Linked DNA regions of Homo sapiens. The protein of the gene in region 2 purifies or fractionates together with the protein of the main gene of each other region. This does not show direct contact. Each region holds a gene or a part of one and is shown on either strand. Other genes may lie near its edges.

Evidence for each region.
Region 1: the proteins of TBC1D25 (region 2) and DCLK1 purify together in Homo sapiens (affinity purification with mass spectrometry, with the first as the bait; one large-scale study listed by BioGRID). This does not show direct contact.

What each region holds. Positions count from the first base shown.
Region 1 is NC_000013.11:36,107,383-36,110,882, forward strand, and holds part of DCLK1 (serine/threonine-protein kinase DCLK1), read right to left. Parts: intron 1-3,500.
Region 2 is NC_000023.11:48,545,894-48,550,033, reverse strand, and holds part of TBC1D25 (TBC1 domain family member 25), read right to left. Parts: intron 521-4,140; exon of another isoform or gene 390-520; intron 1-389. UniProt on the Homo sapiens protein: Acts as a GTPase-activating protein specific for RAB33B. Involved in the regulation of autophagosome maturation, the process in which autophagosomes fuse with endosomes and lysosomes.

The DNA.
Region 1 (3,500 bases), on a different chromosome or scaffold from region 2:
GCCCAGGCTGGAGTGCAGTGGCGCGATCTCGACTCACTAGCAGTGGTAGATTTTATAAAGTACATGGCCTATGTGAAATGTCTATAAGATAAAAATATAACATCTCTGGGTTTTTTTCTCTTCACTAAAGCATGCTGCAATGTTGTACAGATCTTTGATGTTGAAAAGTAGATAAGATAGGGATGTGCATTTATTTTCTACTTAAAGAGCAATCCAGTTTGTCATTGCTGTATTTCAGTGGGAAGGGGATCATTGGGAAGTGCCCTATCTATGTTCTTTATAGTATAAATCACCTACTTAGGCACTAGCTGTTCTATGTTTCTAAGGACGGATTCAAGAACCACAGATTTAGCAGCTCAAGAAAGCCAGATTTGCTTTTCCATAAAAGGAGTCAGGAGATATGCAAGGGTATCTTTGTAGCAAATCTGGTAACTTTTAGTCTTATTTTAAGCACTTAAAAAATAGTTATACTCCAAATGGCCTCTGGGAGTAACTGCTTGGCAGGTTAAGTGAATAACCCACAGCAAAGTTCCAACATCCAGAGCTTGGACTTGGGCAAGAGGAAGAGACTCTCAGACTCTAAGATCCTGCAGATCCTCCCCTTGGACATGGGTTCAGGGGACATGATTTTAACTGTTAGCTAGAAAATGTCCCTTTTTCTTCTTTGGAGGTCTTTAACCAAGGCCCAGATTTAAAAAAAAAAAAAATGCATCACTGAAATTAAGGCATGGTAAGTGCTTCCTTGAACTGCCAGCCATGCCAGCAAAAGGACTGATGACCTGGTGAGCAGTCACCCTGAAAGTTGCAAGGAAGAGGAGGAAGGTCGGGGCAACCATTTGCTGAAGCTTCAGTGCCCCTGAATAAAGAATGGAGTTGAAATCATTAGAAAGGGTTTGCTCACACATAGGCTGCTTATGAACCACAACGGTCATCTTGGCCAATTGCAGCTTCCTGCAAAATCTTTTCTAGATTGTGCAGCATTTCCAAAACGTTTATTTCCTTATCTCAGTCTAAAAACATCAAAAAAAGTACTGTTCAATGAACTCTTTGCTTAGGGCTAACACAAACCCGAGAGGCAACTGAGCAAGGAGTGGTGGTAGAAACAAGTGAGAACAGCATGTGGTCTGTGCCCTCCGGTGTCCGTCTCCTCTGGGTAAGATATTAAACAGCAGGCTCCGGCTTTCATGGTTCCATTGTCCAAAATCCCAGCGTCAACAGTTTTCATGCCATGGATACATCTGTAGGCTGCCCCAAGGCAATCTACAAAACCATCTTCCTCTCTACGCATTTACTCAAAGCACTCAAGCAATTCATTTTTTAAACAATTCTATTTCCTCAACCCAAAAACATGAAATTCTTTACTGGGCACTGGAATTCCCATATTGTTTATGGAGTTGATGTGAGGGTTCAGTTAAACTATTTTTTAAAAAGGTGGGACAAGTAATCTTAGGGTGGCATCTTGTTGGCAGCATATGGACCCCGATGCCACCACAGGCAGGCCAAGATGGTAGCAGTGCAGGTGCCACCCCACTATGGCCAAGCGTTATTCCACAGGACAGCGTGGAGGAAACTGATTTATTCTCAGAGGCTTATCAAGCCTCAGTCTCTGCCAGGGTTGTCAAAAATTCTACTCTAACAAACTGCTTATGGGACAGATTTCTCTTTTGAGCCAAAAAGATTCTAAAGACTCCTGGGGTCCATGAGGAAGCATCTTTGTTCTCACTGGGAACCCAACGAATAAGTCTTTATGTTCTTTCCACTTTATCATCCAATTCCTCTGCAGCTTTTCACTGATCCTGCTATGAAGAGAACATGCCAACACTAGGGGAAATGCCACAGCAGCAAACTGAACGCTTGACAAAACAACAGTTGAGTACAACAGTCAGCAGAATGACTGCAGGGAAAAAAAGGACAGAGCAGAAATGTTTCAGATGATATTCTTTGGACAAATTACTCCCTTGACAATTCTTTCTCAATACATTTACATCAGTTTGGTGCCTTAACATAATCTAAAGTGGTACAGTGGTTACCAGCACAAGCTCTGGAGCAAGACCAGTTTAAATCGTAGCTGTGTGGTCTTGTGCATGTTTTTAACGAGTTCTGTGCCTTAGTGTTCTAATCTGTTAAATGGGGATAATAAGCAAGTTGTTATGAGGATTAAGCATGCTAATACATGCAAAGCACTTTGAACAATGCTCAATAAAGCTATCATCATTATAGTTCAAAATTGCTATTGCATGTATCATCATAGTTGACCCACAGCACTCTATAAAACACAGGTAATCATTTTATCTGTGTTTCACTGATGAGGATAATGAAGCTCAGTTAAGTGTTTTGCTAAAAACATAAGGAATCTACGGCTGAGCCAAGACTTGAATCCTGGTTTTTTGACATTAAACCTCGGATTCCGTCCCATGACTTTGGATTATTTACATGTAAACCACAGTAAACTAGCCATTATCAAATATTAATTCTAGACAAATTCAGTAAGGAAGAAAACAACTGAGAACATCATACCTATTGTAGGGATTTATTCCTGAAATAAACAAAATTAAATAATCAGCTGATGGCAAATTTTAGCTAAAGTCATTAAAGCCGATTTTTAGATTCAGAGTAGCATTTTGGAACTCCCAAAATTCTGAAGTGCAGCAGGGAGAGGGAACATTTATCCATATGTATTCTTTGCTCTAATGAGACACTTTATAAAAATATTTATTTGAATAGGTAAATATTTATGAAAATAGATGAACTCCCATCTTGAGAAAATTCAATATATGAAAATTCAGAACTACAAGATGTTTGAATAACTCATTAGAAATGGAGCCAGTGAAGGGCTTACAAAATGTGTAAAGGTGAAGTTTGCCATCTTATTGCTACTATAATTCACAAGCCAGCATGAACTTTCTGGTCATTGATAGATTTACGACATTTAGGCTACAGACTCTTAAATATAGAAGACTAAGTCTCATTCATTAGAGAATCTCATCCATTAGAATCCTTATCCGCATATTACTTAGGGCAAGGGTTATAAGCCAAGCAAAAGATGGTAAATACAAATGAACAACTGGCACATATTCCTTCTTTCCTAATGAATTTTATAATTTAGAGCATCTGAATGGATCCCTAAGGGAAGTATTCTTTCATGACTAATACTCTTTCTAGGATTAGCATCTATTTCTAATTCAGAAAGTTTGAATGCGCTAGCCTTTAAGAACTTGGAGGAGTCTTCTATTTAATAAGATCAATCTTTTAATTCATGGATCATTTTAATTTTAATATTTACTATACATACAAATCATTCAAATTATCCCTCAAAAAAAATTTTTTAAAAAAGCATTTTGATAGCACCACATTAAAAACTAAACTTCCAGCAAAGATAGTGTGCTCAAAAGTATAATCTGGTAAACTCTGAATGACTAGCAAATCATGCTGTACATATAATCAATTTTTTTTTTTTTTTTTTTTTGAGACGGAATCTTGTTCTGTCACCCAGGCTGGAG
Region 2 (4,140 bases):
GCCTGGGCGATAAGAGTAAAACTTCGTCTCAAAAAAAAAAATTAAATTAAAAAAAATGATGCTGGCATAATTGACTATCTTGATTTTTTTAAAGCTAGGTCTGCTTATCACAATGCTGACAGAGAAAAGATTTATATGTAAAAAAGAAAACAATAAGCATAGTAGAAGAAAATATAGAATATTTGTATAAGCTTATGGATGGGGAACATGTTCCAAAGTAATAGGAGAAACTCAGCCAGGCACAGTGGCTCATGCCTGTAATCCCACCACTTTGGGAGGCCCAGGCAGGTGGATCACTTGAGATCAGGAATTCGATACCAGCCTGACCAACATGGTGAAACTCCATCTCTACTAAAAATACAAAAGTAGCCAGGTGTAGTGGCACATGCCTGTAATCCCAGCTACTTGGGAGGCTGAGGCAGGAGAATCACTTGAACCCAGGAGGCGGAGGTTGCAGTGAGCCGAGATCGCGCCATCGCACTCCAGCCTGGGCAATGAGAGTGAAACTCTGTCCCTCCACCTGCAATAAAAAGGAGAAACTCAGAAATCATAAAGAAAAAGATAGATATCTGTGTAGGCGTGCAATCAAATGTTTAATTTTGATAGGACAAAACAGATCCATCCCGTAAGCAAAGCCAAAAAACAAAAGATCAACTGGGAAAAATATTTGCAGTACCTATGATAGAAAGGAGGTTGGGGGCTGGGCACGGTGGCTCCCGCCTGTAATCCAAACACTTTGAGAGGCCGAGGTGGGTGGATCACTTGAGGTCAGAAGTTCGAGACCAGCCTGGCCAACATGGCAAAACCATGTCTCTACAAAAAATACAAAAATTAGCTGGGCATGGTGGTGCACACCTGTAGTCCCAGCTACTTGAAAGCCTGAGGCAGGAGGAGAGCTTGAGGTCAAGGCTGCAGTGGGCCATATTTGCGTCACTGCATTCCAGCCTTGGTGACAAAGAGAGTCTCAAAAAGAAAAAAGATTCATATCGGAAAAGTACAAATTGGTCAAAGGTCTAGGCTTTGTAATCTCCCAACTGTAGAGGTGACAGAAACTGGCTTTTTCCCAGAAAGAGGGACTGGGCCATCCAAACAGTCCCAACATGTCTGTTGCTTTCACAGCCATGAAAATGATCATGAGAATGCCATTAATATGTCTAATGATAGCTCCATATATTGGACACTTACATATTAATGTGTAGAATACCTTATGTTAAACACATACCGTTTATGTGTACAGACACGCAAATATGAATATACTCACATATGTGGATAAATGTGTGTGTAGGGAGTGTAAATAAGTAAAGGACATGCAAAGTTACACATCAAACCGATTCCCTCGGGGCAAAAAGGGTAGGGTAGGGGATTGAGATTAGGCATAGCGTTCCCAGGAGACTTCAGCATTATTTAAAATGCTTTTATTTTTAATAAGAATGTATTTACTGGGTAATGAAAGATTAGTTTCTCTTAAAAATATGACTCCAATCAAATTCCCGTCAGGATTTTAATGGAATAATAAGCTGATTTATTAAATAAAAAGAACAGTAAGTGAACAAGAATATTCAAGAAAATTTTTTAAAAAGGAAAACATGAAAACATATCATAAAACTATAATGATTAAGGCTGGGTGCGGTGGCTCTTGCTTGTAATCCCAGCACTTTGGGAGGCTGAGGCGGGCAGACTGCTTGAGTCCAGGAGTTCAAGACCAGCCTGGGCAACACGGCGAAACCCTGTCTCTACAAAAAATACAAAAATTAGCTGGGCATGGGGGCATGTGCCTATAGGCCCAGCTACTCAGGAGGCTGACGTGGGACAATTGCTTGAGCCTGGGAGGTGGAGGCTGCAGTGAGCTGAGATTGGGCCACTGCACTCCAGCAAGGATGACAGAGTGAGACCCTGTCTCAAAAAAAAAACAAAAAAAAAACCCTCAAAACCAAACAAACAAACAGAAAACAAACTACTACAATGATTAAAACAACATAGAATTGGCTTATAATTTAATAAATAGATCAACGTAAGAGAATCAGGAATTCAGAAACAGACCGATGTTGTGCAGGAATTTGGTAAATAAGACAGAGGGCTTTTTTTTTTTTTTTTTTGAGATGGAGTCTAGTTCTGTCACTCAGGCTGGAGTGCGGTGGCACGAGCTCGGATCATTGCAACCTCCGCCTCCCAGGCTCAAGCAATTCTCCTGCCTCAGTCTCCCGAGTAGCTGGGATTACAGGCGCCTACCACCACGCCCGGCTAATTTCTGTATTTTTAGTAGAGACAGGGTTTCGCCATGTTTGGCCAGGCTGGTCTCGAACTCCTGACCTCAGGTGATCCACCCGCCTCGGCCTCCCAAAGTGCTGGGATTACAGGCGTGAGCCACGGCGCCTGGCCTAAAAAGATAACCTTTTAAAGATGTATTCCTGCCAGACTACTGGGTGTCTTTCTGTCTGTCTCTCTGCTTTACTGGCATTCGTCCCAGTTCTCATGCACTTGGGGTTTTCTCCACATGTTTCGTAGCCATGCAGATTTGATTTTTTTCCTGAAATAGTGCTACTGTGTCTCTTTAACAGGTGAGGAAAACAAGGCCCAGGGAATTAAGTGACTGACATAAGCACATATGGCTACTCAGTGGCAGAGGTTCCTGTGTGTCTGGCTACCTGGCTTTTCCTATTTGGCTTCCTGCCCATCTCTGTCACTATCTTTCCCTCTGACTCTTGTTTCTCTCTCTCCTCTGTCTCTCTTTTGCAAAGCTGCCAATTTTAACAAGTCCAAAATGTTGTAGAGTTAAATGGTTAAGAACAAGGACTCTGGAGCCAGTTCAGCCACTGCCTGAGTTCAAATCTTGCTCTTCAACTTACTGTCTGTATAACTGGGACGAGTCCTGTCACCTCTCTGAGCCTCAGTTTCCTCATCTATAATATGGGGAAAATGATTGTCCCTACTCTATAGGATTATTTTGACAATTCAGTGAAAAAATATTATGTGCACAGAATGGCCCTAAGTGTTCACTACACATTAGCTAGTTATATGTTATTATGACATCAATAAAGTGCTCGACTCATCCCAAATGGGCACATGAGTTTCCTGAGGCTGGGAACCACATCTTCCACTCCACAACTATTTAAAACAATTTTGAACCTACAATAAAGTTAAAAGAATACACTGAACACCCATACATACTTCATCTAGATCCTCTATTAACATTTTTTTGGGCCACATTTGCTTTATCTCACTCTCTCTGTATATAAACACATTATTTTTGCCAACTTATTTGCAGACATCATGACATTTTACCCCTTCATACTTAACTGTGTCTTTCCCAAGAACAAGGATATTTTCCTTCAATAGATATGATACCACTACCACACTGCTATGGTTTGAATGTGTCCTTCCAAATTCATGTGTTGCAATTTAATTACCAATGTGATCATATTAAGAGGTGGGGGCCTTTAAGAGGTGATTAAGTCCTGAGGGTAGAGCTCTCACAGATGGGATTAGGGCTCTTTTTTTATTTTTTATTTTATTTATTTTTTGAGATGGAGTCTTGCTCTGTTGCCCAGGCTGGAGTGCAGTGGTGCGATCTTGGCTCACTGCAAGCTCCGCCTCCCGGGTTCATGCCATTCTCCTGCCTCAGCCTCCCGAGTAGCTGGGACTACAGGCACCCGCCACCACGCCCGGCTATTTTTTTGTATTTTTAGTAAAGACAGGGTTTCACCGTGTTAGCCAGGGTGGTCTCGATCTCCTGACCTTGTGATCTGCCCGCCTCGGCCTCCTAAACTGCTGGGATTACAGGCGTGAGCCACCGTGCTCAGCCTCTTTTTTTTTTTTTTTTTGAGATGAAGTCTCGCTCTGTCACCCAGGCTGGAGTGCAGTGGCAAGATCTTGGCTCACTGCAACCTCTGCTTTTCGGGTTCAAGCGATTCTCATGCCTCAGCCTCCCGAGTAGCTGGGATTATAGGCATGTGCCACTACACCCGGCTAATTTTTGTATTTTTTTTAGTAGAGACAGGGTTTCACCATGTTGGCCAGGATGGTCTCGAACTCCTGACTTCAGGTGATCCGCCTGCCTCAGCCTCCCAAAGTGCTGGGACTACAGGCATGAGCCACCGTGCCCAGCGGATTTGGGCTCTTATAAAGAGGTTGAGGGTGTGG